Linked DNA regions of Homo sapiens. The protein of the gene in region 1 interacts with the protein of each later gene in a biochemical or structural test. Each region holds a gene or a part of one and is shown on either strand. Other genes may lie near its edges. The genes, in order: ESCO2 and SMC3.

The links.
Region 2: of the proteins of ESCO2 (region 1) and SMC3, one has a biochemical effect on the other in vitro, tested with the Homo sapiens proteins (one study listed by BioGRID).

What each region holds. Positions count from the first base shown.
Region 1 is NC_000008.11:27,794,793-27,811,685, reverse strand, and holds the end of ESCO2 (N-acetyltransferase ESCO2), read right to left. Parts: intron 12,146-16,893; coding exon 11,970-12,145; intron 8,381-11,969; coding exon 8,248-8,380; 3' UTR 6,370-8,247; downstream 1-6,369. Other genes in the region: PBK (lymphokine-activated killer T-cell-originated protein kinase), read left to right, coding at 519-728, 1,185-1,381. UniProt on the Homo sapiens protein: Acetyltransferase required for the establishment of sister chromatid cohesion. Couples the processes of cohesion and DNA replication to ensure that only sister chromatids become paired together.
Region 2 is NC_000010.11:110,566,672-110,583,564, reverse strand, and holds the start of SMC3 (structural maintenance of chromosomes protein 3), read right to left. Parts: upstream 15,871-16,893; 5' UTR 15,749-15,870; coding exon 15,734-15,748; intron 14,628-15,733; coding exon 14,552-14,627; intron 9,859-14,551; coding exon 9,820-9,858; intron 8,230-9,819; coding exon 8,162-8,229; intron 7,206-8,161; exon of another isoform or gene 7,104-7,205; intron 6,145-7,103; coding exon 6,073-6,144; intron 5,731-6,072; coding exon 5,651-5,730; intron 4,938-5,650; coding exon 4,859-4,937; intron 2,662-4,858; coding exon 2,544-2,661; intron 1,643-2,543; coding exon 1,467-1,642; intron 1,004-1,466; coding exon 923-1,003; intron 182-922; coding exon 17-181; intron 1-16. UniProt on the Homo sapiens protein: Central component of cohesin, a complex required for chromosome cohesion during the cell cycle. The cohesin complex may form a large proteinaceous ring within which sister chromatids can be trapped.

The DNA.
Region 1 (16,893 bases):
GGCTTTTTCATTGAAATTGACAAGTTGACTCAAGTTTAAATGGAAATGTGAGTGGACCTATTTCTTTCTTGGGCTTTAAAAAAGAGCCTATGTGTGATTGGTCCCTTTCCCTTTTCCTTGACATAGCAATCATGGAAGCATAGAAATGGTACTTCTCTCAGCCTAATATTGTTCACAAAATGAAGAAATTCAGGTCTAGAAGTGATCTGCTCAAGGTCACGCAGCTTGCACACACATGTCTTTGAACCAACCCAAGCAAGGCAGTCTGGCTCCAGAGTCTGTAATCTCAACATCCACATTCTATATTCCTACTAATTTGTAAGAGAATTGCTGTTTCTCTACATACCTGCCAACTGACCAGCTTCTTGAATATTTACCAACCTGAAAGGTAGAAAGTAATCCTTATTGAGGTTGAGTGTATTTTTACATTTTCTGGCTACACTGATTAACCTGTGAACTACTTGTTCAAATCGTTCGCCTGTTTCCCTTTGGGTTGCTTGCCTTTTCGTGATTTGTAGCTCCTGCCTTCATAACCATCTTGCTTGTTTCAGTGACTGACCCTGAGGCTTGTTACATTGGCACAGAGCCATGGAAACCCAAAGAAGCTGTGGAGGAGAATGGTGTTATTACTGACAAGGCAGACATATTTGCCTTTGGCCTTACTTTGTGGGAAATGATGACTTTATCGATTCCACACATTAATCTTTCAAATGATGATGATGATGAAGGTATGAATACAATTTCTAACATAAATCCCAATCTCTTCATTTCACACTAAAGATTATATAATTTTATCTTTCTAAGATATGTATTAGTACTGATGACTGATTTGGTACCACCAAGGTTTAATCTCACACAAATGAGACATAGATTGAGAATAGGGAGAAAAATTGAGGCTATCCAGAGAAGCAAAACATTATCTTAAAAACTCCCCTTTCCTGAGAAAATGATTGATTGGAAAACTATCACAGGAAGGGTAAAAGTAGGGGTCGATAACCTATAAATCCAAGACTAAAGCAAATCTACTTGATGGCAGGACAATTGAAGACATTTCCATTCTGTCTGTGGCAGAATGGAAAGCATACTGGACCATAAATTCTTGTTTCAGGAGAAGGGTGAGCTATTAAACTTTTCCATGACATAAAGTGATTTTGTTTATTGTTTCAATCTCTAACTCCTTCAAGATAAAACTTTTGATGAAAGTGATTTTGATGATGAAGCATACTATGCAGCGTTGGGAACTAGGCCACCTATTAATATGGAAGAACTGGATGAATCATACCAGAAAGTAATTGAACTCTTCTCTGTATGCACTAATGAAGACCCTAAAGATCGTCCTTCTGCTGCACACATTGTTGAAGCTCTGGAAACAGATGTCTAGTGATCATCTCAGCTGAAGTGTGGCTTGCGTAAATAACTGTTTATTCCAAAATATTTACATAGTTACTATCAGTAGTTATTAGACTCTAAAATTGGCATATTTGAGGACCATAGTTTCTTGTTAACATATGGATAACTATTTCTAATATGAAATATGCTTATATTGGCTATAAGCACTTGGAATTGTACTGGGTTTTCTGTAAAGTTTTAGAAACTAGCTACATAAGTACTTTGATACTGCTCATGCTGACTTAAAACACTAGCAGTAAAACGCTGTAAACTGTAACATTAAATTGAATGACCATTACTTTTATTAATGATCTTTCTTAAATATTCTATATTTTAATGGATCTACTGACATTAGCACTTTGTACAGTACAAAATAAAGTCTACATTTGTTTAAAACACTGAACCTTTTGCTGATGTGTTTATCAAATGATAACTGGAAGCTGAGGAGAATATGCCTCAAAAAGAGTAGCTCCTTGGATACTTCAGACTCTGGTTACAGATTGTCTTGATCTCTTGGATCTCCTCAGATCTTTGGTTTTTGCTTTAATTTATTAAATGTATTTTCCATACTGAGTTTAAAATTTATTAATTTGTACCTTAAGCATTTCCCAGCTGTGTAAAAACAATAAAACTCAAATAGGATGATAAAGAATAAAGGACACTTTGGGTACCAGAAGGTGTCTCAGCATTATTTTATACTTCATTGATTTGAGTGTTGTCATTAAACTTGAGTAAATGTGAGGTTTCTTTCCCTCTCTTGGCCTTATTTTGCTAATCTATAAAGTGTTTTGGATCAGTAGTTTCTGTAAGCCACAGTCCCCTGGGAATTTTCCAAATTACTGAATTGCCAATGTAGGTGGTATACCTACATTTGGGTGTAGACAGAATTTTAAAAATTACCGACACAGGGCGTTCTCAGAAACATTAGGAACAACTGCACTCTGAACTTTAAAAATGCCTAGAAATCACTGAAGGCCTTTTGGTATAAGATTGTACCAAGCAATAGGACACAACATTAATTTGCATATATTCCATCAAAATAATGTGACAAGTAAATTGGAAGTTGTCTTAATTTGTAGAAAAACGTATGTATAATTTTGCATCCTGATACTCAATAGGGTCTCTTATCCTCACTCTGACATGTGTCACTCTTCTTTGCCAAGCCAACAGAGCAGCTTCTCCAGGGCATTCTTTTCCTAGCAGGAATAGCAGTTCCTGCTTTAAGACTTAAAGCAGGAACTGGATCTTTCTTGAATTGGCTCTTTAATACATAAGCCATTGCTTTTCATTGAGAAATTTATTTCCACTTCCTACAGTTGAGATATCTAATAGGAATAAACTAATACCAAGGACAAGACCAGCAAATTCACAGCCCTTGTCTATGGTAGACATTACAAAATAATCCCAGCATGCACTGCCCCTTGAGTCTGGTGAGGTCCTAGAAATCCTCAACACAAGATTGCAGACAATCTGCTACCAACTGGAAGAAAATTTTTTTTATTCTTGTTCTAGAACTTGCTCTAAGTCTCAGATGTTATCTTTTTGGACATTTGCCTCATTCTCAAAAGAGCAACATGTGACTTGGCTGAGGGCTTTTTTTTTTTTTTTTTTTGAGACAGGGTCTTGCTCTGTCACTCAGGCTGGAGTACAGTGGGGCAATCATGGCTCACTGCAGTCTCAACCTCCCAGGCACAAGTGATCCTTGCACCTCTGCCTCCCACTCCGAGTAGCTGGGACCACAGGTGTGTGCCACCACACCTGGCTAATTTTTTTTTTTTTATTTTTTGTAGAGACAGGGTTTTACCAAGTTGCTCAGGCTGCTCTGGAACTCCTGAGCAACCTCTGTCTAGGCCTCTCAAACTGCTGGGATTATAGGCGTGAGCCACCGTGCCCAGGACTACCTTTACACTGAATTAATTAGTAAATCAAAATAGCCTTCTCTCAAGTGGCTTTCTCACCTCCCAGGAAATCTTTCCCTTTAGAATCTGTAGAAGCCTCCAGGAGCTTGTTATGCCTCCATAAAAGGAGATAATCAGCAGCTACTTGAGAAATGTTGAAGATGATTCTTTCATGTCTCCTGGTACCTATTTAATCTTCTACAATCTGTTGATTAGAATAAAAATTAGAAAGGATTTTAAACTAGACAAATGCTACATATAAAAACTATATATAAAAAAATGCTATATATATCAGCTAAGAATTTGGGAAAAACAAAACAAGTCTCCCGTCTTAGACTACTATAACAAAAATACCATAAACGAGGTGCCTCAAACCACAGAAATTTCTCATAGTTCCAGAGACTAGGAAGTCCAAGATCAAGATGGTATCTGGTGAGGGCATCCTCATAGAAGGCACCTTCTGGCTGTGTCTTTACATGGTGGACAGAGCAAGGGAGCTCCCCGACCCTCTATTTTTATAAGGGCATTAATCCCTAAGGGTTCCTTCCACCATCATGACCCATTCACCTTCCTAAAGACACTACTTACGATGGTATTACATCATCTTGGGGGACAGGGTTTCAACATACAATTTTTGGTAGAACACATTCAGACCATAGTACCTCCCTTCCAATGGGGGGAAAAAATTAAAACTTACAGGAAATAGAAAACAAACCTATGATAGGATTAACAATGCCAATCTTCAAAAATACTAACAAAATTGATAAACCCCTAGGCAAAACTCATCTGTGGAGAAAAAAGACATGTCATGAATGAAAAAACCTTTACTACAGATCCTACAGATACCCAATCTTATTCAAGAACACATGAAAAGTCCAAAAGAAAACTAGTTCACTGAAGCCAATAACATTAAAAAGAAAAACATCAAGACCAAATTGGGTTTGGTTTATTTAGTTCAGGGAGGCTAGATTGCTTTAACATTCAAAGAACAATGTAACCGCCATATTAACAATAAAGAAAAATCAAAATCATCTCCAAAGATAGAAGAAAGACTTTTTATAAAATCTGAGTATCTGTTCAAGATGTTTGAGAGCTTCCTAGAAACCTAGGAATAGACAGAGGAACTTCCTTAATATTAGAAATTTATCTACAAAGAAACTATAAACCTTATATTTAATAGTAAAATGTTGAAAACTTTACCTATTATCAGCAATGAAACAAATATGCCCCCTACCATTGCTTTTATTCAACACTGTACTAGACTGGCAATCTTAGAAATGCAATATTGTAAGAACAAAAAAGCTGTAAGATTCTAAAAGAAAACTCATTCACAGATATTATGTAGATAGAAATAGATAAATTAGAATTAATTAAGTTTAGAAAGATTGTGAATACAAAGTCAAAACAGAAAACTTGTAGTTTATATATCAGCAAACAAGATGTAACTTAAAACACTTTTCCCAATGGCTTAAAAAAAAGTAACAGCTGGGCATACTGGCTCATGCCTATAATCCCAGGACTTTGGGAGGCTGAAGTGGGTGGATTATTGGAGGTCAAGAGTTAAAGACCAGCCTGGCCAACATGGTAAAACCCCGTCTCTACTAAAAATACAAAATTAGCTGGGCGTGGTGGCATGCACCTGGAATCCCAGCTACTGGAGGCTGAGGCAGACAATAGCTTGAACCCGGGAGGTGGAGGTTGCAGTGAGCCAAGATAGTGCCAATGCACTCCAGCCTGGGCAACAAGAGCAAAACTCCGTCTAAAAAAAAAAAAAAAAAGAAAGTATCCAATACTTGAGCAAGTCTAAAAATCAGTCCTCCCAAATTGATCTATAGATCTGACACAATTCCAATAAAATCCCAACAGGCTTTTTTGTTGTTGGTAGCTTTTTGTGGAATAAATTGATTCTAAAATGTATATGGAAATGCAAAGTCCAATAATAGACCGAAGAAAAAAAGTGGGACCATGTACTAATACTATAGCAAACATTGATACTATAATTAACACAGTCTGGTATTAGCATAAATAGAACCTATATAAAATTAGTAAGAATACACAGGCAGAAATAGACATACACATATATTGGCACAATTTATGACAAAGACCCCCAGTAGAATGCCTGAAACCATGGACAGTACTCAACCTGATTGCCCTCAATAGGAATATGTTTCTGTGCATGTCTTCTGCCCACAAATTTAATGCCTTTTCCATCTTAACTGAGCACTTATCACCCCACTGTGGCTACTCTGAATGGTGGGCAATTTAAAACTTATGAATTCCTTACTTCTAGAAATTTCCATGCAATATTTTTGGTAACAAACTGTGGGAAGCGAAATTGCAGATAAGGGGGGATGTACAAGGTGATCTAGGCTCATCTTGTACATTCATTGCCCTATCCCTAGAATGAGCCATTTCTCCAAAGAGCCCCAGGTCCTTTTGTGGAAGAAGGTATTAGTAAGCAAGATCTGGCTGGGTGCCGTGGCTCACACCTATAATCCAGCACTTTGGGAGGCTGAAGTGGGAGGATCACTTCAGCTCAGGAGCTCAAGGGCCTCAGGAGCTTAAGGACTGGCTGGGCACCATGGTGACACTCTGTCTCTACTAAAAAAAGAATACAAAAATTAAGCAGACGTGGTGACACACACCTGTAGTCCCAGCTACTTAGGGAGCTCAGGCGGGAAGATCACTTGAACCTGGGAGGTCGAGGCTGCAGTGAGCCGTGTTTGTACCACTGCACTTCAGCCCAGGGCGGGGGAAAAAAAGAAAGAAACCAACCAAGATCTGGGTGGTAGGTGTGCTCATTGCCATTAGGGTATCATTGCTTTGAGACCATCTCAGTGCACTTGCTTCTTGTATGTGTTATACTTAAAAACAAAACAAACAAACAAACAAAAAACACCCAACCAAGACAACAGTATCAATAGCAAATCATGCTAAATATTTAAAATAGAAATAGTTCTTGAAATACAACATATCTAAGACATACTGAAGTGAGGCAAGATGCAAAATAACTGCATATGTATTTAGTTATTCTAAAGTAATAAGCACTAAACTCAAAGCAGGATTAAGGGAAGCCTCTTCTTTTTTTTTTTTTTTTTTTTTTTTTTTTTTGAGACGGAGTCTCGCTCTGTCGCCCAGGCCGGACTGCGGACTGCAGTGGCGCAATCTCGGCTCACTGCAAGCTCGCCTCCCGGGTTCACGCCATTCTCCTGCCTCAGCCTCCCGAGTAGCTGGGACTACAGGCGCCCGCCACCGCGCCCGGCTAATTTTTTGTATTTTTAGTAGAGACGGGGTTTCACCTTGTTAGCCAGGATGGTCTCGATCTCCTGACCTCATGATCCACCCGCCTCGGCCTCCCAAAGTGCTGGGATTACAGGCGTGAGCCACCGCGCCCGGCCGGGAAGCCTCTTCTTTTGGCAATCTCTATTTCTGTATTATCTGAATTTTATTTAACATATACTATTTTCATAATAAAATAATTAAAATCAGATTTAGTTGTATAAAATAAAGAATTTTAATTGATTCATAACAAAAGCATTAAGCAAACAAAATGTTAATTAAAAATTTTAAATAAAATATTTAAAAGAAATAAGTGCAGAAAATAGCATTAAAATGTTTGCATAATTACATACATTTTAATACTTCCACATTCTTTTGGGGACCCAGGCTTTTAAATTTTGGAAACATGTTAACTTACAGGCAAATAAAATGAATGCAGATGAATAGTTTCTACATATAATTACAATCTGGAAAACGACTTGCCTAGAGTCTTATTGCCAGTTAGCAGTTGAATGATTTTTCAGAATCAAAACAATTTGAACAATGTTTTGCTTTTTAAAGTATCCAAGAATTACACTAGAAAAATGTGTGAACATTTAAGTGTATTTACACAGTTCCATGGTCTCTCATCCACCAGCCTATGTATATTTACTAACCTTGGTTCTATTACCATACATTTTGTAAAGACTTTTGCCAGGTATCTCAGAACAAGTAAGGTGCATTTTAAACAAGCAAAAAATTAGAAAATGAAAACATCTAATCCAACTAGGCATTTTGTTAATGACATCAATTGTCAGTAACAGGTTCCCAAAGTAGTACTACCAATATTTCCATACAACAAAAATTAACTAAGTAATAGTGCAATTACTAAGTATAATTTTAATTAAATCTGATGACAGGTAAACATTTATTTTCAAAAAGATTGAACACTAAGCTATCAAATTCTGCTCTACAGAAATGCATATGGGATAATCTTATTCCTTACCATCTTGTTACAAATAAATTCTAAACATTTTCTAAAGATATTCAAACTGAGTTACTACAGACGAGTGCCTATCAAGTGAAGACTCTGTATAGAGAAGTCAGGAATTAGGCTGGGCACGGTGGCTCATGACTGTAATCCCAGCGTTTTGGGAGGATCGCTTGAGCCCAAAAGTTTCAGACCAGCCTGGGCAACACAGTGAGACCCATGCCTCTATTAAAAAAAAAAAAAAATTCAGGAATTCCCTTTACAAATTGGGCACAGAAATTACTTGCCCAAGTTTAAATTTGCCTGTTTGCTTCTGATGTGGCATTAGATAATCCTGGTCTAAGAGTGGGCTTTATAAAAGACCAGGTCACATTTCTAGAGAAAAATCACTTTGTATTTAATACTCTTACAAAGAGTCAGGTAATTTTCCAGTTATAGCTACAAAGTTTCATAATTAAACATTCAGAGTGCTAATCAGGGAATCACCCAAAGATTTTTCCTTTGAATCCCCAGATAATTTTCAACAAATTTATTCCTGACTTTTCAACTCATAAGGAACAAAACTGTGATATGTGTGTGTGCGTGTGTGTGTGTGTGTGTATGAGTGTGAGTCTCGGTATTTTTTATTTTGATATTAAATAGTTTGTATTTTATAATAAGGAGCTCTTTGAACTTATCCAGATAGTAACTCCTTTATAACTGAAATCAGCTTTAACTATTAAAATTATATACGAGGAAATTAGGGGTGTTGCAGTACTTGGTTGCAAATAACTTGCCATCTGGTGTTGGGTCAGAAAATGCTATTTCATCAGTGCTGAGAAAACAGCCAAACATGAAGCAATTCCTAAAAGAGAAGAAAAGATGATTTAATGATGGAAGCAACTTAACATTCTAATTAACATGAGCACAATTTAAGTAAATACTCTTGACTTAAATCAACCTTATTTTTAGTAAGTGAAAAAATGCCTTATATTTTAGAGACAGAAGTCTAATGATATCATTTCACAGATGGGAAAACTAAGGTCCAGAAAAAATTCTGATGAGAGGCAAAGGGAACCATCCACCTAACTCTAGGATATCCATGGTAAAGAGCAACTAATATAAGATCATATTGCTAGGCCAGGCGCAGTGGCACACGCCTGTAATCCCAGCACTTTGGGAGGCCAAGGCGGACGGATCACGAGGTCGAGACTATCCTAACACGGTGAAACCCTGTCTCTACTAAAAATACAAAAATTAGCCGGGCATGGTGGTGCATGCCTGTAGTCCCAGCTACTTGGGAAGCTGAGGCAGGAGAATCACTTAAACCCAGGAGGCGGAGGTTGCAGTGAGCCGATATCTCGCCACTGCACTCCAGCCTGGGTAACAGAGTGAGACTCCAACTCAATCAAAAAATAAAAATAAAAAAAAGATCATATTGTTAATTAAAAGCCAAAGATAATTAGAACCAAAAAAAATCAATCTTAAGCAGTAACTATATATATATATATATAATATATATATATATATATATATATATTTTTTTTTTTTTTTTTTTTTTTTGAGACAGAGTCTCACTTTGTCGCCCAGGCTGGAGTGCAGTGGCACGATCTCTGCTCACTACAAACCTCCGCCTCCCGGGTTCAAGCGATTCTCCTGCCTCAGCCTCCCGAGTAGCTGGGATTACAGGCATGCACCACCACACCCGGCTAATTTGGTATTTATTTATTTTTTTTTAGTAGAGACAGGGTTTCTCCATGTTGGCCAGGATTGTCTTGAACTTCCAACCTTAGGTAATCCACCCGCCTCGGCCTCCCAAAGTACAGGGATTACAGGCAAGAGCGACCGTCCAGCCTATATATATTTTTTCAATGTAAACATCCACTGAGAGCTTTAAGAAGGGAAAAACTAATCTGCATTTTGACTACAACTCTCCTTGATCTTGCTTACCTTAGGATTAAAAGTAATAAGGAAATGGTTAAAAGAATTCAACATCTCCTACAGCTTGTTTGTGAAAGAAAAAAAAAAAGAATTAATCAAAATTGAGGGATATTCTATAAAATAACTGACTTGCACTCTTCAAATTTTTCCATGTCAAAAGACTGAGAAATTGTTCCAGATTAGGGAAGATGAAGATTAAAGAGACGTGAAAACTAAATGCTGAATGTGATACTGGGCAAAAAAAAAAAAAAAAAAAAAAATGCCATGAAGGACATTTGAGACAACAGACAAAAGTGAAATATGGACTGTCAAATAAAAGCATTACATCAATATTAAATTTCCCAAATTTGATAACTGTATCATGGTTATATAAGAGAATATTCTTGTTTTTAAGAAAAACACACCAATGCATGAAGGGGTAAAGGGGCATAATATATGTAACAAAATAATTCAGGAAGGTTATCTAAACATAGAATGGTAAAGCAAATGAGGTAAATGTTGAACTTAATAGATCTTGACAAAGGCTTCCTACTACTCTTGTTCTTTCGTAAGTTTGAAATTATTTCGGAATAAAAATTTAGAATTTGATTCAATTAGAAGATATAAGCTTCTAATATATTAACTATAATTAAATACATAATATGGTAGAACTAGGTTAGATACTGGTATTCCTCATACCAAATTTATATATCTAATATAAAACATAGAAAAGTATTTCATAACTAATCAAACAAAAATCTTTAAGATACCAATTTTTCCTACTGATACCCTTTGTAAGTATGTGTGATTGACTAGGATTTATGGCCCAAGATCCGGTCCCCATAATGGTGTTGGCATTTATTTTTTAAAAGTGGCATAGAATGCAAGAGGCTTGAATAACACTATTCCAAAGTGTGGTCTTTGGTTTGGTTAAAGTGTGCTTACTGGTTTGTAACCTATTATCTACACGATGAAATATGTGTAGAAATTGAGAGAGCAAGTGTTGTGAAACTCATCCATATAACCTAGATTAGGTAAATTAGCAAACAGGCTTGTTTGTGACATTGGAAACTTTAAACATCAATACATAGTGTCAGTTCAAAGTGTGTACATGGGAATTAAAACTGGACACTCATTTTTTTGGTTGAGATATAACTCATATACTGTAAGACTCACCCTTTAAAAGTGTACAACAGAGTGGTTTTGTGTATATTAACAAATATTGTCCAGTCACCACCACTATCTAATTCTAGAACATTTTTATCATCCCAAACCCCGTACTCATTATTAGTTGCTCTCCATTCATCTTTCCTCAGTCCCTGGAAACTACACATCTACTTTCTGCCTCTGGATTTGCCTGCCTCTTATGGACATTTTATGTAAATATAATCATACAATGTGCGATCTTCTGCAACTGATTTATTTCAATTAGCATAATGTTTTCAAGGTTCCTCCATGTTGCAGTGTGTGCCAGAATTTCCTTTATGGCTGAATAACATCCCATTGTTATTATTGTATCGATATATCACATTTATCCATTAATCACAGATTGGATTATTTACACTTTTTTGGCTTTTATAAATAATCCTGCTATGAACCTTCATGTGCAAGGTTTTGTGTGGACATGTTTTCTTGAGTATATACCTAGGAGTGAAACTGCTAGGTCACATAACAGTTTAACTTTGAGAAACCATCAGATTGTATTCCACACCAACTGCACCAGTTTACATTCCTACCAGCAATGTACAAGGGTTTCAGTTTCCTCTACATCCTCACCAACACTTGTCTGTTTGATTACAGTCATCCTACTGGGTATAAAGTGGGATCTCACTATGGTTTTGTTTTGTGATTTCCCTGATAAAGATGTTGAGCATCTTTTTATGTTGAATTAACCATTTGCAATTTATCTTTGGAGAAATGTCTACTGAAATTCTTTGTCCATTTTTAAATTAGGTTGTCTTTTTATTGTGTTATAAGAATTATTTTATGGGTATTAGACCCTTAGACAAATGATTTGCAACTATTTTCTCTCGTTCTATGGATTGTCTCACAAATCCACTTTTTTAGTTATGCTTATGAGTTATACCAAGTCTTCATTATCTAGTCACTATCAATGACCATGTACAGCTTCTGTAATTTTTCAAACCTTTACTTTGTATAGATTATATTTATTGAAGCGTAATTTCACATCTGTTAAGTCTAAAACAATTTGAGATTGTAGTTTTGTTTTTTCTATTTTTTTCTAGCAATCCATTTTTATTTTATTAGTGTTGGTCTGTGACAAATTAAACTAGTCCTTTAGCACAGGTAGTTTGAAAAGCAGTGGGCTAGTATGTTTCAGACCTGGAATGTTGCACCCTAGACTGAGTACATCTAGTATGGTTTTTCTAGTACCAATACCTTCCTTAGCCTGACTTTAATAGTATTTATACTGAAGTATCTTACCAATATCCTTCCCTTTAGCTCAGAAGCCGAGAGGTTCTGGGAAAGCTATGAATCTAAGGTTCTGGATCTAGATCCATTTTATTTCTTACCTGAGGGTATCAACCAGTCGTCTTGCAATGCGCTTTCTTCTCTTCAGTCTGAAAACCCAGATTCTACTTATCCCACAGACTGCAGGTTCTGGTACATCTGAACATTGCCAAGCCCTAGGACATTCCGTAGAGCTTGGGGATTCTGGACCAATTGGTTCAGACAGGACACGAAATGCCTGCAATGATATACAGAAGCATCTATAGCTAACACCACAGATGAGTTCACACTGCTTTAAAAAAAAATTCCTTAAATAAGTATCAAAAATTTAACTTATATCTCCAAGTATGTTAAAAAATATTTTCTATTTCTTAAATTCTTATCCCTTTAGTCACACAATGCTTTAAAAAAACTAGTGGTGTTGAGACATTCACAAATTCTAGTGTGTCCCATAGCATTACGAGACTTTCCTCTTAAACAATTGTAAACATTAGACTCTTCCTTTTAATAAAGTATATAAAACTCTCTCATTCTCTCCATCCTAAAATGTATATATGACCACCTAAAGAAACCAGTAACACTAAAGAAGATTTATATCTATTAACTATGAAATTTGGTTGGCATTTCGTTTCTTAAACATTTTTATTTTGAAATAGATTCATAAGAAGTTGAAAAAAACCACTACAGAGGAGCATGTATCCTTCCCTGAGTTTTCCCCAATGATTACATCTTCCATAACTGGTATAATACCAAAACCATGAAATTACCATTGGTATAATGGTGTGTATAGTTTCATGACACTTAATCACACCTGTATATACATTTAACTACCATCACAATCAAAATGCAGAACTATTGAGTCACCACAAAGATCTTCTTCCTCATTATAGTCACATCCACACTACCCCCTCTCCCATCCTCAGTCCCTGACAACCACCAATTTATTCCCCATGGCTATGAGAATGTTATATATTATATAAATGAAATCATATACCATATGACCTTTTGAGATTGGCTTTTTCCCACTCAGCATAATGCCCCTGAGACTCATCCAAGTTGTTAAGTGTATCAATTCTTTGTTACTTTTTATAGCTAAGTAATATTCCATCATATGGCTGTATCATAGCTTATCATTCACCTAAAGCATTTAAGGACACTTTGGTTGTTACCAGGTTTTGGCTATTACTAATAAAGCTGCTATTAACATTCTTGTACAGGTTTTTGTGTGTACATCAGTTTTCCTTTGTTTTACTTAAATGCCCAGGAGAACAATGGCTGGATCATATAGTAAATACATGTTTAGTTTTTTTTTTTTTTAAAGAGACGGAGTCTCACTCTGTGGCCCAGGCTGGATTGCAGTGGCACGATCTCGCTCACTGCAACCTCCACCTCCTGGGTTCAAGTGATTCTCCTGCCTCAACCTCCCAAGTAGCTGGGATTACAGGCATGCACCACCACGCCCAGCTAATTTTTGTATTTTTAGTAGAGGCGGGGGGTTTCAGCATGTTGGTCAGGCTGATCTCGAACCTGACCTCAGGTGATCCACCTGCCTTGGCCTCCCAAAGTGCTAGGATTACAGGTGTGAGCCACTGCGCCTGGCCTATGTTTAGTTTTTAAAGAAACTTCAAAACTTTTTCCAGAGTGGCTGTAATATTTTACATTCCTACTAACAAGGTGTGAGAGATCTGGTTTCCCCATATCCTCACTAGCATTTGGTATTGTCTCAATTCTTTACCTACTGTTACCCTTCTGACAGGTGTGTATTTAGTTTTTAATTACGAACAACACAACATTGTTTCTGACCTGAGAGTAGAAGAGAACAGTTAGTTAGCTACATCTTGCCTATTATCAGGACATAACAGTCTACTTCTTTGAGATCGAAGAAGGAAAAGGCCTCTTAAATAAATACACAACATAAAAAGATGTAAACTGTAAAATTAGTAATGTTGAAGGGAAAAAAAGTGCAGAGCTTTTGTAGGTGATATAAATTGTTATCAGCTTAAAATAGGCTGTTATATTATAGGATATTTTATGTAAGCCTCATGACCATAAAGCGAAAACCTATAGTAGATACATAAAAGATAAAGAAATCAAAGCACACCACTACAGAAAATCATCAAATCCCAAGGAAGACAGCAAGAGAGGAAGAAGGGAATATATATAAAACAACCAGAAAACAAAACAAAATGGCAATAGTAAATCCTTATTTATCAATAATTACTTTAAGTGTAAATAGAATATGTTTGCCAATCAAGACACACAGAGTGGCTAAATGGATAAAAACACAAGACTCAACTAAATATTGCCTACAAAAGACTCACATAGACTGAAAGTGAAGGGTCAGAAAAACGACTCCATGCAAATGGAAACCGAAAGAGAACAGGAAGTACCTACACTTACATCATACAAAATAGATTTTAAGTCAAAAACCATCAAGAGACAAAGAAGGTAATTATATAATAAAAGGGTCAATTCATTAAGATAAAACAGTTGTAAATACATATGCATCTAACATTGGAGCACCTAAATATATAAATATTTAGGATTCTGAAAGGAGAAATAGATAGGAATACAAAATTGTAGGGGACTTCAAGATCCTACTTTCAACAATGGATACATCGTCCAGACAGAAAATCAATAAGGAAATGAACTTTTTTTTTCTTTCTTAAGAGATAGGGTCTCACTATTGCCCTGAGCGGAGTGCACTGGTGCGATCATAGCACACTGCAGCTTCGAACTCCTGGGCTCAAGTAATCTTCCTGCCTCAGCCTCCTAGGTACCTGTGACTATAGGCATGCACTACCATGCCTGGCTAATTTTTGTAAAGACAGGGTCTCACTATGTTGCCCAGGCTGTTCTTGAACTCTTAGCCTCAAGCTATCCTCCTGCCTCAGCCTCCCAAAGTGTTGGGATTACAGGTGTGAGCCACTGAGTTCAGCCAGTAAACACTGAACTTACACTTCAGACCTAATGGACCTAACAGAAACACATATAGTATTCCATCCAATAGCAGCGGAATGAATGCACACTCTTTTCAAGTGCACACAGAACATTCATAGCAGTATAAAATTAGAGATCAATGACGGGAGGAAAAGTAGAAAACTGACAAATATGTGAAAATTAAACCACATGCTCCTGAACAACCAATGGATCAAAGAAATTAAAAGGGAAATTGACAAATTTCTTGAGACAAATGAAAATGGAAACACAACACACCAAAACCTATGGAATGCAGCAAAAGCAGTTCTACATAAAAAAAGAAGAAAGATCTCAAGTAGCCTAACGTTACACCTCAAATAATTAGAAAAAGAAGAATAAAGCCCAAAGTTAGTAGAAGGAAGAAAATAAAGATCAGTGGAGATAAATTAAACAGGGACTCAAAAAATAGAAAAGATTCGCAAAATGAAGAGTTGGTTTTTTGAAAGATAATTGACAAACCTTTAGCTAGACTAAGAAAAAAGAAGACTCAACTAAACAAAATCACAAATGAAAGAGGAGACATTACAACTGATTATCACAGAAGTACAAAGGATCGTAAGAGACTATGAATAATCATATATCAACAAATTAGGTAACCTATAAGAAATAAATTCCTAGAAGCATACAACCTACCTATACCAAATCATGAAGAAACAGAAAATCTAAACTAACCAATAAAAAGGAGATTCAATCAGTTTAAGAAAAAAAAAAAAACTTGCATCATAGGAAAGCCCATCTGTAATGACATCACTGCTAAATTCTACCAGATATTTAAAGAACTAATACTAATCCTCAAACTCTTCCAAAAAACTGAAGAATACCTCCAAAGTCATTTTGCAAGGCCAGATTAATCTGATACCAAAGCCAGAAAAGGACACTACAAGAGAAGTTACCAGCCAATATCCCTGATAAACAGATGCAAACTAGCACATTAAAAGCATAGTACACCATGATCCAGTGGACTTTATCCCTGGATGCAAGGATGGCTCAATACATGCACATCAATGTGTTACACCATATTAACAGAATGAAGAACAAAACTATATGATCATCTCAATACAGAAAAGGCATCCAACATCCTTTCATGATAAGAACTCTCAACAAATTAGGTACAGAAGGAATGTACCTCAATATACTAAAGGCCATATATCACAAGCCCACAACTAACATCATACTTAGCAATGAAAAGTGGAAATCTTTTCCTCTTAATCAGGAACAAGACAAGGATGCTAACTCTCATCATTTCTATTCTACATAGTTCTGGAATTCCTCGCCAGAGCAATTAGGAAGAAAAAAGAAAGGCATTCAAATTTAAAGGAAGAAGTTAAATCATCTGTTTGCAAATGACATGAACTTATGTACAGAAAACCCTAAAGCCTCCACCAAAAAAACTATTAGAATAAACAAATGCAGAAAAGGTGCAGGATACAAAATCAACATACAAAAGTCAGTAGTGTTTCTATACAGGAAAAACAAACTATGATCTATCTTAAAAAGAAGTCAAGAAGACAATCCACTTATAATAGCATAAAAAACCCCACTTATGAATACATTTAACCAAGGAGGTGAAAATCCATACACTGAAGACCAGAAAACACTGATGAAAGAAGATGAAGAATATCTACATAAATGGAAGGATATCCAGTGTTCATGGCTTGAAAGAATTAATATCGTTAAAATGTCCATACTACCCAAAGCAATCTACAAATGCAATGCAATCCCTATCAAAATTCTAATGGCATTTCCACAAAAATACAAAAAACAGTCCTAAAATCTTGTGGAACCATAAGAGATTCCAAACGGCCAAAGCAATCTAGACCAAAGAGTAAAGCTGAGGGGCACTGCACTCCTACTGGCATTAAAAAACACAGCAGCCAATGGAACAAAACAGATAAAATAAATCCAGGCATTTAGAGTCAACTGGTGTCTGACAAACATGCCAAGAACAAACAATGGGGCAAGGACACAGTCTCTTCAATAAATGGTGTCGGGAAAAATGAATATCCA
Region 2 (16,893 bases), on another chromosome or scaffold:
TAGCATTTTAACTTACCCTTTGTTCACTATTGCCTGCTAGTTCATCTTGTAAATCCTTGGCTTTAAGCTCCAACTTAGTCCTCTGCTTAATCTGCTCTTGTCTTTCAGCACTAAGCTGTTCTTTTTCTTCTTTCATAGCTGAAATTTTTGTTTTCAATTCTCTAACTTGGCGTTCGATATCCTATTCAAAAGTATTAAACAGAAAATAAGGCAATTAGAAGTACAATAGCAGAATTGTGACACCATTAATTCTCTTTCACTTAATGTTTAGTAATACTCTGTCCTTTCAATATTCAATTCCTCTAACTCTCCCTTGTGTAATCATTCCATAATTCTGGTACAAAAGGGTTTACTATGGTCAAAAACATACGATGGCTGGACATGGTTGCTCATGCCTGTAAACTCAGCACTTTGGGAGGCCCAGGTGGGAGGACTCCTTGAACCCAGGAGTTCAAAACCAGCCTGGGCAACATACTGAGATTCCATCTCTTCAAAAAATAACAAAAATAGGAGGCTGAGGTGGGAGGATCACTTGAGCTTGAGAGATCAAGGCTGCAGTGAGCTGTGATCTCACCACTGCACTCCAGCCTGTGCAATGGAGTGAGACCCTGTCTTCCAAAAAAAAAAAAAAAACTTCAGGAGGCTGAGGCAGAAGGACCACTTGAGCCCAGGAGTTTGTGACCAGCCTGGGCAACATGGTAAGACCTTGTCTCTACAATATATTTAAAAACTAGACAGGTGTGGTGGTACACACCTGTGCTCCAGCTATTCAGGAAGCTGCGGCAAGAGGATTGCCTGAGCCCAGGAAGTCAAGGCTACAATGAGCCATGATGGCACCACTGTACTCCAGCCTGGATGACAGAACAAGACCCTGTCTCAAAAGTAAAAAGTAAGTTAACATGAACCTTGTTTATAATCTTACCTCCATTTTATCTCTTGCATCCTGCTGAGCATCTCTTAATTGTCTGGATTTTTCTCCACTAGTCTCTCGCTTAGCAGAAAGCTAAGAAAAAAAACAACTTATCATATCTAACTCATTTTGTAATTACTAAATATTTCATAACATCTAATAAAAATTTTTCTATTAAAATAAACCAAAAGTAACTGCTCAAATTTTCTACAAAAATTTTAAAAATGATTTTAAACTAGAAAACTGAAGCACTAAATTTTTGTACAAAATGTGTAGTTTAGGATATACTACAACTACAAGAAGCCTTCAAAATGGCTTTCCTCTCATCTTGTCTGCCTAATACCACCATCTGATTATATTTCAGATAATACTATATAGCAAGGACCACATGGCTAATTTCCTTGAACTAAAAAAACTTGCTGACTAATAAATTCATTGAGAGGTTTTTTTTAAGTTTCTATTTAAAATCACTGAAAAGTGTAATTATGGCCTGAGTTTAACAAATTCATAAAAACAAAATTAATCTGATTTTAAGTGTCACAGGTAAATATTTTACCTCATCAAGTTTGGCACGAGTCTCGTTAAGTTCCTGATTGTAAATGGTATATTCCAGGGCTCGTCTCATTTTATCCCACTTCTGATACTGAGCTAGTTCTTCCTTTTCTTCCTCTAGAGTATGTAATCTCTCTTCAATGTATTTTAACAACTCATTGATTTTTTCCCGTTTGCCCTCTTAAAAGAAATGGGGAGAGAGGTGGAAGAATTGAATAAGATTTTTATGTAATATCACTTCTTAAATATACCTTGAATTAAATTATTTTTAAGAACTGTAGCATTATTTCTTTGATGTGATGTGGTAACCCAATTTAAAATACTAAAATAGCAATTAACCCATTTATGCCAGAGGTTGCAAATTTTTTTCTGTGAAAAATCAGACCTTGGCAATGACCTTGAGCAGTAGAATATAAGTAACATCCACAAGCTTAGGATTCCAATAATGGAATGCTAGGCATAAATGGGTTAAGATCCTTTATTATGAAAAGCACCAGAGAACAAATTTACACATGGTGACACTGGTTCTTTTATAACATGTAGTAAGGGCCTCAGTTTAAGCTTCCTTTTAAAAAGTCAGTGTGCCGGCCAGGCGCAGTGGCTCATGAGTAATCCCAGCACTTTGAGAGGCCAAGGCAGGTGGATCATCTGAAGTCAGGAGTTCGAGATCAGCCTGGACAACATGGTGAAACCCTGTCTCTACTAAAAATACAAAAATTAACTGAGTATGGTGGTGGGCACCTGTAATCCCAGCTACTCAGGGAGGCTGAGGCAGGAGAATCACTTGAACCCGGGAGGCAGAGGTTGCAATAAGCAGAGATCGCGCCACTGCACTCCAGCCTGGGTGACAGAGCAAGACTCCATCTCAAAAAAAAAAAAAAAAAAAGTCAGTGTGCGTTTCCACAATATTTTTAAAAGCTACTAACATCATTGGTGTTATGGATTCTCAATTTTTATTAATAACAGCATTATCTAATGCTGTCATATACTAAACACCTACTATATTCCCATCATGGAGCCACTCTGTCACAAAAACAGTAATTTGCAACAAAAAAATAAGGCAGAATCACATTTATTTTACCTGTTTCTTTCATTAAGGAGATGCTTTCTTCCTTTCGTTCGTCATACACTCTAGTACCAGCTACTTCTCTTAATAGCTTTAATCTCTGAGAATCTGGTGCTGTTGCCATCTGGTTGATCTAAAATTTTTAGAAAAATAATCATTACATAGCTGTAGCCTCCGTTTAAGAAGAAGAACTCCACGTTGAAAGGTTTTTAATACACATGAAGGTTGGGTATCCCTTATGCAAAATGGTTAGAAACCAGAAGTGTTACAGATTTTAGATTTTTTCAAGTTTTGGAATATTTGCATTTATACTTACCAGATGAGCAACCCAAATCCAAAAATTTGAAATCCAAAATGTTCCAACAAGCATTTCCTTTGAATGTCATGTCCACACTCGAAAGGTTTCAGATTGTAGAGCATTCTGTATTTCAGACTTTTGAATTTGGGACATGCCAAGTTTTAAACAGATTATGATTTGGCTAATGTCATTTGTATAGTACGCATGCCTACATATCTATGTCTCCTTTACTTAAATGAAATTTACCAAATAAAATCCAAATACAACTGTTACGGTCATAACTCTCCTTTATGAATAGGGCTAACAAGTGAAGGAGTATCTCACACCACCATCTTTTTCTTAGTCAATATGATAAGGTATAAAAGATGAGCTCCATTCTCAAAAAACAAAGTATTTTTATAAGGGAAAACCATCACTGACTACACTTTTTTTTAAAGCTACAATAATATATTAAAAGTCAATTCTTCCTCAGTTTCCATGGGGATTGGTTCTAGGACCCCCTGCAGGTACCAAAATCCAAGGATGCTCAAGTCCCTTATATAAAATGGCATAGTATTTGCATATAACCTATGCACATCCTTCCATATACTTTAATATCTAGATTAATTATAATAATACAATGTAAATGCTATGTAAATAGTTTTACTGTATTTTTAAATTTGTATTATTTCTTATTGTACTGTTTTAAAATTTTATTTATTTTAAATATTTTTGATCCATGGTTGGCTGAACTTGCAGATGTGGAACCTACAGATACAGAAGGCTAATGATATGACAAAAATGGTATGCTTTAAATATAGAGAGAATGGTACAACTTAAGTGCCATGCAACTTAATATATAACAAGTATCCCTAAATGTCAAAAATGATATCACTGCATTAAAAAATTGAAATTATCTCTACGAAAATAGGTCTATCAAAAGTATCTACATCAAAGAATCATCCTTCAGATCCTCATTATTGAACGCTCCAATTATACATATTGGTTCATGCAATTTCCTCACTTAAAAATTATTTTTCAAATGGCTACAACATATGTGCCACTGCTGGGCACTGGAAAAGAGCAAACAAAGCAGAAAAGGTCCCACCCTCATGGAGCTTACATTCTAATGGAAAAAGACAGAAAATAAGTACTATCCTAACAGTGTAAGTGTTATGAAGAAAAATAAAACAGATTAAGGAAATAAAGCACATAGGGTTGAGGGGACGGCAATGCTTTCAGATGAGGCAATCAAGGATGGCATACGGGCAGAAACTGAAATGAAGTAAAAGGGCCTAGATTGACAGCAGACGGATCTCAGAAAAGTGCTCTTTCAAATCAGCCTCCATTTAAAAAAATTTATCTCCCACAAATAGTTAAATCGGAAAAAAACGTGTTCTTCCAGTAACACATTTTCTAAAACTGAAACTCCATATTCTTCCTAATCACTTCTTCTAAATGCTAACTTTCCAATACATATCTAGAAAAAAAGGCCTACAGTATAAAATAAGTGAATATTCTTTGAGAATTTTCCCTAGTCCAAAAAAAAAGTGAAAGTATATGAGAAGAGAGCAGAACAATCAGCTAAAAAAGTTTGTAGTTTGGCTGCTGAAAAAATGTAAAAACATAATCCCTATTAGGGAAAATAACATGTGGCAAAATGGCAGATTTCTGGTAATGTTAGCTTTTCAGTATTTTAATTGTGATAAATAATTAGGTAACACAAAATATTAATTTTAGAAAGTTTTTCAAATGTGATTTTTATAGAATTCCTACAATATTCTTAATTATTGCAACATTCATAAGCCAATAATGTCTTCCCATACTTTCACCTCAGTAAGTAATACCAGTCACTAGGAAAACAAGATCCACTTAATATGCTGAAATACTTCCATCTCAACATGCAATGGACCTATTTGGTACTTTATGGCCATGTAAAAGAATATGGCCATTTTTGCTTCAGCTTAACCACTCAAATCAATAAACCAAATTCATCACTCAAGAATTACTCAGAAAACAAATTCTACTTAAAAAGGACATACAATTGTTTTACCTTTCCTTGTTTAACAATATAATAAGGATTGCTTCGAGAAAAACCAGCGCTTTCAAGGAGGTTCATCACATCATTTTTCCTGTTGACAAACAATGAAATTACTTTCCGATAAATAATTTTAAAGCACCATTAAGCAATGAGTAGAGTAGCCCCTTGGTTGATAGCATTAGGGAGGAAAGATCAGTAATTAAACCATCTGTATCATCCTCAGAACTTTCTGATTCTTATGTTTATCCTCTATATGTTGACTTGTTGAAGATGAAGCAAATATTCCTCATATATGAAGCAGGTAAAAGAATACTTTTTACTCTTTTGTAAGGAAATCATAAAATTGCGGGCTGGGCGCAGTGGCTCATGCCTCTAATCCCAGCACTTTGGGAGGCCAAGGCAGGCAGATCACAAGGTCAAGAGTTCGAGACCAGCCTGCCAACATGGTGAAACCCCGTCTCTACTAAGAATACAAAAAGTAGCCGGGTGTGGTGGTGACTGCCTGCAATCCCAGCTACTCAGAAGGCTGAGGCAGCAGAATAGCTTGAACCCGGGAGGTGGAGGTTGCAGTGAGCCGAGACTGCGCCACTGCACTCCAGCCTGGGCGACAGAGCAAGACTCCGTATTGAGAAAAAGAAAAATGCTGGCTGGGCGTGGTGGCTCATGTCTGTAATCCTAGCACTTTAGGAAGCCGAGGTGGATCATTTGAGGCCAAGAGTTCGAGACCAACCTGGCCAACACAGCAATACCCCATCTCTATTTAAGTACATATTCAGTTTTTTTAAAAAAAAGAAAAATGCTTACGTGACCATCTTCTTGTCTAAGAAATACTGATCCTTTTTGGCACCAATAACTCTTCGAAGTGAAACTTCCTCTTTATCGATCTAAGAAAAAATGTAAAAGCCCACAGTTAATTTAATAGTAAAGGAGAAAACTTTTTAAATAAGGTCATTTTAAAGTCCTTGCCCATAAGTATTTATTTTAAAATTTCAATTATCTCACTAAAAATAATACTACAAATACTCAATACTCTTAACCAAGACACTTTTCACAACAGTTTGTACATTCCCATTTGTTAACAGAGTATTCATTGTCATTTTAAGATAAAATCAGTATATAAACTGTAATTATAACAAATTATAAAAGCTTAAAAAGTTTCAAAGTATGAAGAAAATCAGCTAAACCAATTAAATTCTCAACATTACTTTAAAAAAAAAGTTACTTACTGGTAACCGGTTGTCTGAATTATCAAAAATAATCTCCACAAAAGCAGAAATAACACGAGGACCAGTACCTTCCTAAAAATGAAAGAAGTGAGAAATTTGCCATTTAAGTTGTATATTCATATCCTTTAAAGGATTCTTAAAGTCTAGGGCATAATAACAAGTCTGATTCAATGGAGAAAAATTTCTGCTAGATTCATATATACACACACACACTAATCTAACGTCTCTGCTCTTTTGGCAAGAGGGATACATACTTTGGGGATATCCCCAGAGTTATAGTATATATCCCTCTTGCCAAAACAGCAGAGACGTTAGATTAGGACAACAAAACTTCTCAACCAAATAGCTTTTGATTCTAAATAAAAAATAAGAGCTATGCAAGACATGTCAAAGTTAGATATCCTTAAATATGATTCTACAGACCACTTTATTAGACTGCAAGACTGGGGACATTTAACTCTACCTATTTGCTAATATCTAATACACCATGAGGCTTTTCTCTTACAGTCTCATTTTAATGCTGCAAAGAAATCCTAATAAATCATGGGATAATTACCAAAAGTCTGTTTTTTAAGAAAAATTGAGACATTCTACAGTTTTAAATCTATTATAGAAATATACACATTTAACATGTGTCACATTTAAACCAATCTATGACACAAAAACTATGGTACCAAGTCCAGATACCTTCCAGATTATAGAAACTATGTAGTAAATACAATGAAGAACTGTACCAAAGAGGTTATTAATTATTTTAATGCCAATCTGAAAAACCTAAAAAGAATTTTTCTAAAGGAAATCAATTCTGATTACTGGGCTACAAATTCAAACTAAACAAGGGGAAAAGACAGACAAGAGCTAAACAAAACAATTTCCTATGTGTGAGAAACACTGTTAAGACATGTTGAGGAATTTCATTTTCTAGTCTTTAATAAACAATATTCAAATCAGAAGGATTAATCGTTTTATTGTAGTCTTTCATGATTTTCTATCCTAAAATTACTTTAGTCCATTACTCATATTTTTTTCCACATCACATTGGTAATGTGCCAATGTCCTAACAAGGTTTGAGGGAGGCATGACTCACATGAACACGAAAACCCAATCATCGTGCTTATGCATTACAAAAGGACCCACTTAATAAAATATCCTAACTCACATTACTGTAAATATACAGGTGGTCCCCAACTTACGATGGTTCAACAAATGGCTGAATGACAACGTGATAGCAGTCTACATTCAGTAGAAACCATAATTTGAGTATCCATAAAATCACTGTTTTTTACTTTCAGCATAGTATTCAATAAATTATATGACAGATTCAACACTTTATTATAAAACAGACTTTTGTGTTAGATCATTTTGCTCAACTGTAGGCTAATGTCCATTTTTGACTTATGGTATTTTCAGTTTATGATAGGTTTATTAGGACATAACCCCGCTGTAAGTTGCAGAACATCTCTACTGTTTTTCATACTGGAAAATGATGTTTACTATCTAAGTACAAATATGGCTAAAACAACAAACAACTTGTATGTTGTTTAGTTTGCAATGGTTGTTTCTCTATGTTCCCAATTAATTTTTGGTTCTGCATCTTAAAGTTCCTAATCTGCAACCTCAAACTCTTCTTTCTCCTCAGCAAACCTGCTTCTTAAGCCTTTGCAGATCACATCCTTAAAGAAATGTACATGGAGGACATACCCACCTATAGGCAAATCCTATAATTTTCTCCTAACCATCACATAAAAATTAGGCCTTTATCTGGCATTAACATGTTAGGCTAAATTTCACAGCAGAATAAAACACTTATGATATATATCATGTCTCCTTTAAGACATTTATATGGAGGACATATCCATCTATAGGCAAATCCTATAATTTTCTCCTAAACCACTGTATAAAAATTGGGCTTTTATCTGGCATTAATATGTTAGGCTAAATTTCACAGCAGAGTAACACACTTATGAGAAAGATTGTGTCTTGTTCACAAAGAATCTGAAACTTGAACAAATGCTTTTTTAACCAGCATGGAAAATTTATTTTTAAAATATATGTAATATCAATAATGTCTTAAAGCAGTCTCACTCACATGCAATAAAGCCAACCGCTGTTCTGGACGAAGATGACTAAACTCATCACTGAGAACAAACTGAATTGCTGGAAATACAAAAACAACTATTAGTATACCCTAAAAAAGTGTTTATAACTTATTTATAACTTCCCACACCTCAATAGAACATAGTGTGTCTGGTAATAGACAATGCAAATAAATTATCTGTTTCATATGGACAAAAGGAAATGCAGAAAATGTGCCTGCACATCAGACTAATCAGGTAGGAAATGATATAAGAAAAATACTGAGAAGTTTTCATTGAAACATTTAAGGTAAGGAAATAAAGAGAAACCACCGAAATACATGAAAACAGACAAGCAAAACTAAGGTATACCTCTGGCTCAAAGTGTTCACTGACTGGATTAGGTTAACACTGTATTTGCTTTTTTCCCCACTAGACATAAATGATATGAGTTAAAATCCTTTTTAACAAAATAGGATGTATTTTGAGAATATGCTTAAGTGGATACTTTACCAAAAGAAATAAAACTAAGGAAATACAGGGAAATGTTTGAGATGCCCAACTTATACTACACTTCTTATACTATACCGAGCTCTGTAAGAAGGGGCCGTTCCTACTTCGGTATAGAGTACCTAACTGGACCACCCTGCCTAGGAAGTGGAACTCTTTACTCAGCTGTTCTTGTCCCAGTCCACCCAAGAGACCTCTGGCACTGTGTGTGTGTGGAGGTGGTGGGGGTGCCCACATCAGCAAGTACGTGCATAAGCATTAATGTGTGTGCTGTGGACACAGGTCGAGGTGAGGAGACTTCACACTGCCCTGGAGATTCTGAAATACTTCCACTTCAGTCCATTCTCTCATCATTGCCAAATTACAACCACAATAGGATATACAGGCTAGAGAGTGCCTTTCAGATTCGTGTGCACAGAAGAGATAGAACCTTTGTTCTTACTAAGCCAGTCCACTAAATGCCCCTTTCCCTCAAGCATTACCCAACTAAAAAGTTCAAATTTTTCAACCTACTCCTTAACTGTCTAATTTTGTTAAAATGTTTTTCTCCTCAAAGGATTTGTTAACAGACGCATTGCTATTTACACTTAAATGCAATTTAGAGAGAATTTTTGAAGCTCTATTTACTATCTTCAAAGTGACAACAGTCTGTTCAGTTTCAAGTTTTTTATACCTCTTCATCCTTTACAAAGATGATTGGTTTAGAAAACGTTTTCAAAAAGGTGAAATAAGAAAGATGAACAATTTTCCAAAACAATACTATCAACTATTCTACTGCATTTACATACGTTTAAAATATGCATTTATAACATTTATATATTACATTCAAGTTTAAAAAGCATTTTCATACATACTATTGCATTCCATTCTTACAAACCATCTAAGGTAGACAGGGCAAACATCCAAACATCTCCATTTTTAAAGTGAAAAGAAAAATTTGAGAGGCTACGTGTTTTGCCCACTCTCACACAGCTAATCAGCCACTGGGTATAAAGCAGAATTCAGATCTGTATACTCTAAACCCTCTACACTAAGCTGCAACCCCATATAAAGTATTTCTTGGGTTTCATGAATACATAACCTCAGAAAATTAATGATTTTAATAATCTACCCTAAGATACCCAGGTCTTAATATATTTACAATTCAAAAAGCAACACCTACCATAAAAAAAGTTACTTTTTCCAGATCCATTTCTGCCCACTGGAAAATTTCAAAAAGTACAAGTTATTTTACATAAAAACCAATAAAATTAAAACTGTTTACCTTTTTAAAAATACTCAATATTTTTAAAATCCAATTTTCTAATACATCTTAACATCTGAAATTAAACAGTGAACAAAAGAAACCAATAAAACAACTATAATCACCAAATAAATTCAATTTTTGTACAGACTTCTAATAGTTTTTTCTTTAAAGATATTTCACAGTTGATCCGTTTGCTCTTACCCAATAGTTTAAAATGAATAGGAATAGCTAAATATACTACCTGGCTCTTATATCATATTACAATGGATATATAATTCTATTTTAACTATATATGTTTAACAATTTAAAGATTCATATATTGCTAACGTTCTAAAATAATCATTTTAAATCCTTAAAGTGTTCTCATGTTTAAAATCAACCCTATATTATCATGTGTAGTCTCACAGAACCACAAAAATATAAATAATTTTAAGGTACTTTTTGACTAACAAAATTCAAATATAAGCAATTCAATACGTAAAAGGGTATCAAATCCTTTTAAGTGTGTTTAGTGAAATTTTCAGTGTTAAGACTCATAAATAACTATGTCAGTCTTCTCACTCTTGAGCCAGAAATATCCTGAGCAAATTAACCACAAAGTTACCACCTTTAATGCAAAGTAAATCTCAAAAAGATCATTCATGTCATGCCAGAAAGGATGTACTTTTTAAAAAAACGCATATGACAGACACAGGAGCCAGCTTGAAGGGGCCTTTCAGTAGCTAAAACTAGGGGTAATCTGAGCATCAAAATGGCCAAATAAATTATAAATTATTGGTGGGGGGAATAATCCATGCATCCATACCAATAATAAAAAGATAAATAAGTAGGTAAGGAAGGAGGAGAATTACCAAATGCCAAGTTGTAAATGTGAAAGGAGTGCTGGAAATGAAAAATCATTTTGTGACCGTCAGAATAAAGGCAAGGGTCATCAACAGATGGTAAATGCAGGCACAAAGTTTGAAAAGGAGCACAAGATTTACATGGTCCAAAAGCATCTGCCTATATTACTTATTAGCTGCAAGGGAAAAAATAATACCTACACAGTGGAAACATTAGACCTTGACTGGGTGATCAAAAGTAATATCATCAATAAGAGTCAGACAGACCTCATGTGCCTCCAGATGTGATATCCTGAGAGGGACACAACATCACTTATGTCTTAATTCTCAAAAATAACAATGTTATAAAAGACAAAGGAAGGCTGTGGAAATGATCCAGATTAAAGGAGACTAAAGAAGCATGACAACTATGCAATACCTGCTCCTAAATTAGATCCTGTACTGGAGGGGGAAAAATGCTATCAAGAACACTTCTGGGTCAGTCAACATAACTGGAAAATGGACAGATTACTATGTATTAAATTTACTTAAGTTGTAAATTGTACTGTGATTATGAAAGAGAACATCCCTCCTCTTAGAAAGTACACATTAAAGTCAGAGGTAAAGGACCATGGTGTAAATAACTTTAAGGAAAAAGGTGTGTAAAAAGTGGAAATGATACAGCAAGTGGGGAAAATGTTAACAACAGGTGAATCTAGGTAAAGGGTTTATGAGTAGTCTCTGAACAGTTCTTATTGGGGAAATTTTTCTGTAAATTTGAAACTATTTCTAAATAAAAGTTTAAGATGACAATTTATCATTAAATGAATAAATATTTCAAACCACAATCCATCTATAAATAACTGAAATTTTAAGAATTTCCTTTTAAGAATTACTGCTAGAGTGGAACACTATATAGCAATTTTAAAGGATGCTGAATATTTAATAAAGATATTTCAAGATTTATCCTGAAGGAGAATAACAGATTACCAGTAAGTTATATGATGAACCCATTTTTTATTTAAAAATGAACCCATTTTTATTTAAAAATGAACCCATTTTTATTTAAATATATATTAAAAAGATGTATACAAAGACTAAAAACGTACTGAGGTAAACACAGTTTATATGTGGCCCCAGATTCACCTTTCTCAACCCAGGCCTTGGCTGCCAATCAATGGAAAAGCTCAGTCTCCTAATACCTCTGGTAGATTCAAGCTACCTTGGGAGTACATTCAGGTACTCCTGAATTGTGAACATGGAAAGGAGGCTATAACTCCCTGACTACTTCCGGGTGTTAGTTCCCAGAGCACCACAATCCAAAAGCTTGGAGGCATCAATGCCAGATGTAGAAAACTTTGACCAATGAAAGACAGGTGCCTGCAAACAAATCCTTGTCAGAATCCAAATCCATTCCTCTATCATCTGACCTTTCTAAGGTATGGTGGGTCCACAAAGTCTGTGAGTTATTTAACATGACTGCAAACCACCTGTCTCTTCTTTAGAAATCTATGACCAGCTTTTCTCTTCATTCTTGCCCTCAAACTGCACCTCCCATCAAAGCCTTAGCAGCTAATCCTGTCTGTGCTGTTTTCTAGGAAACCAGGACTAATCACAAGTATAGACTGTTATTATTAAGAATGGTTATCTCTGAAGAATCATGGTGTGCAGTAAAAAACAAAGAATGGTTATCTCTGAGTAAAAGGATTATAGTTTATCTTAATTTTCTTCCTTTTAGCTTTTCCATAATGTTCTATAACATGTATTTCTTTTGTTAAAGGTTAGGGGGAAAAAAATCCCTAAAAACGTATATGTTTGATGCATATACCCAACATCAGTACAAGAGATATTTTTTAATAGTCAACATCATTCATCAATCAAAGTGGTATGCTTTCACCAGATATTTTTAAGGCAAATCTCAGTACCTAACTACTTTTGGTCTTTCTTACATTATGTCTTACAACGTGTCTGGTTTTAAAATATGTTTAATCAGTACTGTTATCTTGGGTTCATTTGTTTTAGTTAAACAAAACCATTTTCCTTTGTAACAGTGACTATTAACAAATCTAATGCTGCAATCACAGAGGTAACACAACTAACTGATAACAGCTAAAACAATGGTATTTGATGGACCTTATAGACAAAATGTAATCATTCTAGCTAGTAAGTTACAGATCATTTATAAAATCACACAAATGAAATATTAAGGTACTTATTTTAAGGTGCAAGTTAAAGAAAACAGAAATCTAATAATTCTTATTTTTCTACATTTCTAAAGATTTTCTGATTGATGAAAAAAATCAGAAAGTACTTATATGTAAGCAAAACCCCAGTACAATTAAGCCACCCTATGGCATGTCAATTCAATTAAATGACTTCAGTAGACAGAGCACAAGCAGGGAAAAAAAAAGTATGCCTTCTTTATTCCCAACTACAAGGCTGCTATTGATAAATCGAGGGCAAAAAAACCTGCCTTCAATTTTATCATTTTATACAAAATGAAGTATGATTCTCTAAAGGTCTTCTGGAAACATTAGTAATGTGAATCTCACCCACGCACCACAGACTGAATTGAACTGACACCCTGAAACAACTGACACCTTAATCCCGAATGTGATAGTATTTGGACATGGGGACCCCTGGAAGATGATTATGGTTAAATGAGGACATGAGGATGGGGCCATGTGAGCACACAGCAAGACAGCAGCTGTCCATAAGCCAGGAAGAGAGCCTCACGAGAACCTAACCATGCAGGTATCCTGATCATGGATGTCTGACCTCCAGACTATGAGAAAAAAAATATCTTGTTTAAGCCACCAGTCTATGGTATTTTGTTATGGCTGCCTTAGCAAACTAATACACCACTTAGTTTGGACTCTGTACAGCAAAACTGTGTCAACAGCAGTCTGTGTTTCTGGTGTCCAGAAGCACTCCTTTCATCTATCCTGTAAAATACTCAGCAGAGTGTCAGAAAACATTTTTGTTAGCTGTATCAGCAAAATGCACACTACAATCTGAGCAATCTATAATGACTACATATTGTTAATGGCAATCACCATTAGCTCTTTATCTTCACACTTACATAAGGTTTCTCATTTAATCTTCTCAACAGCCCTATGAGACAGGTATCATCTCCACTTTACAAATGAGAAAACTGAAGCTTCTCAGAAAGTGAAAAAGAACGTGTGCCACAACTGGGATTTTTTTTTTCGTTGTTGTTATACTAGGATACATGTGCACAACATGCAGGTTTGTTACATAGGTATACATGTGCCATGTTGGTTTGCTGCACCCATCAACTCGACATTTACATTAGGTATTTCTCCTAATGCTATCCCTCCCCCAGGCCCCCACCCCCCTATAACTGGGATTTGAACCCCATTCTGTTATGCTCCAAAGTTTATGCTCTTCCAATCTAGCTACATGGTCTGTCCTTAGAGACACTGACTGCCGGGGTGGGGGGGGAATCCTGGCATCTACTTTGTGAATAAAAATTGTCTGTCTCTGAAATAAGGCAACAGTCAGCATTTTCACTAGGATATATAACAAGAACAGAAGAGCGGAAATGCTTTAAAACACTCTTACACACACATACAAGGCTACCTAGATAAAAAATGGATAACTTATGAGTGTCTTATCCAAACATTTTAAGTTTATAAAAATAAGCAATTCATCAGTGCAATAAGACAGAAAAGTTATTTCACGCAGAAAAATATAACTTAATATTCAAAGACAATTCCTGTCTCCTTAAGCCAATATAGAAATGGACAGAATTTACATTATCTGTATAGACTATAAATATGACCGAGTAAACCAAGAACACTTACCAATCACATTATGTTTTGAACTGAAGGGATCTACAATTGTTTGATCTCTGTAACTTCGAAAACCCTGGATAATCACCTAGTAAATAAAAAACATTTTTGAGAACCCACCCCACAAAAAAAATTAACATTTTTCTCTTGCATTTCTTTCTTGTTTTTCATTTAATGCAATATAGAAAACTCGAAATTTCATATAAGAAAAATTCATTTTGGAAAGTGGTGATTAAAAATCTGCTAAAAAAAAAAAAAGGTACTTTTATCGGTAATCTTTGCCAAGGCAATGCTGCTGGGTTTTATTTTTTTTTAGGAGTTATGCTGTCAACCTGTTAAGGACCTTTCAAAATCAAAAACACTGTGTGAGCTTAACTGAACCCTAAACGCTGCAGTACAATAGCAAGTCTATAAAAGCAGGCCGACGGGCCCCAGCTCTCCTGACTCCAAGACCACCGAGTGCTGCTTTCAGTCACTCACGCCGGCCAGCCTGAAAGAACCCACGTTCCAAAGAAGGAGTGCTCAGAGCCCGACAGACCCAACAGAAAACCGTCTCCAAGGCCGTGTGCCTGGGCTCATCTTTGTGGTGGAGTCCCGCGCGGGAAGACCATTTTGACAGAAGTAAACAACCGAGGGAGGCGGCGCTCCGTATCCTGCAAGCAGGAGGGTCCCGCTCACTTCGCGGGTTAACTGGGGAGAAGAACGGCTCCCCGCAGTGACAGGTGACGACACCCCAGCCAATGCCCCCAGGGCCGCCCCCGGGCCGGGGAAGCCACCTTTCCACACATCCCAGGCACATGGGCCGTGTGAGGCCACCCCTGCAGGACCACACAGCCCTTCCCGCCCGCGGCCGCCCCGGCGGGGTGCCCCCCGCCAGCTCTGGGGCCACCCAGGAAGGCCCAGTCCCTCCCAGCGGCCCGCCCGCCGGCCCTTCCACACCTCTCGGAGATCCTGCCTCTCCCAGACAAGCGCCAGCAGGGAGGCCGGGGCTGCAAAGGAGTGCCCCAATTCTCCGCGACCCCGCAGCCGGGGCACTAGCGGGACCCGGGTCTCCCTCCTCCCCCACAGTCCCCGCCCAGCCCTGGTCCAGCCTGTGGAGACAGGGGAGAGGCTGCGGGTGGCGCCGCAACACTCCCGCCTCAAGGAGCGGCCCTTACCGGCCCATGACGGGGTGGAGGGACGCGAAGGCCTTACCTGCTTTATGTACATGATTCCGGGCCCCTGGCCTGGAAGGAGACCTGCCCCGGAGCAGCAACCGCACGGCCGCAGGGTCAGGTGAGGCGCCTACGCGACCCCTCCCCCAAAGCGCCGCTCGCTCCCCTCAGCCAAACAAAATGGCGGCGCTCGTGGGGGCGGAGTCCGCGCCTCGGACGGAACCACCTTGCAGCCTTCACAGGGCGTAGGAGGAGTCAAGTTCAGGTCTGCTCTTTCTTTTAGGCAAAACCAGTCCTCCACAGCGTTTTTTGGTGGATTTCTTTTGAATCTAGAATTCTGTAGCTAACGCTTTCCTGAGACTTAGTCAAAAGCTTCACTCGGAAAATCTATGACCGTAGGGTTGGTCCGTACCACCTCCGAGCGCGGGGCCAATGGTCGCGTCCACAAAGGGGGAAAGGTTCCGCGCCAAAGCCAAGAGGGAGACTCCGAGGGCCAGTAGCGCCGCGGGCTGTCGGCCACGTGATTCCGCGCTGTTTAAAAAAGCGGACCTCGCGCGCACTGTGCTAGCCTTGGAACACATGGAATGCTGGTGATTCTTGGAATTCTGTGTGCGGAGTCACTGCTGCCCCTTTGTTATCGCTCTCCATAGGAACGTTTACAATCTTAGCACGCCCCAAGCTGGTTACGAATTGCCCACTCGGAGGACAACCCCGAAGGGATTTGTCAATGCTCGAAAATTTGTTTTAATAATGTGATGATTAATTCCGTCGGGAACTGTTTCTGTTCTACCATCTGCTATAAATCTAGGCAGATCTGTACAATTGCAACAAAGATTTAGGTAAGGCTGAAAGCTTTTAATCCACTTTAAAAACAAAAGAAAACAGCCTGAAAGATACTAGGTGCTAGTGGCAACCCTAGGTCTGTCTGATCCTTGTCAGTCTTGGGAGAAAAACATCATTTGTTTAGAAAATGAATCTCTGGGCTGCTCTGAAATTACTTGCTGGGAAGAGAACAAAATAACTACCCAAATCATCCCCAGCCCCACCCCCGCCCGCTGCTGGAGACAATTCTGGCCCTAATTATTTCTAGATTGAACTATTTTTAGTAGCCTCCTAACTGCCTCTGCTAACCAGGGTATCTCCCTAGGAGTCCTTTATCTGGAGCCCGGATCAAATCCTATCCAGCCCTTGGTTTAAAAA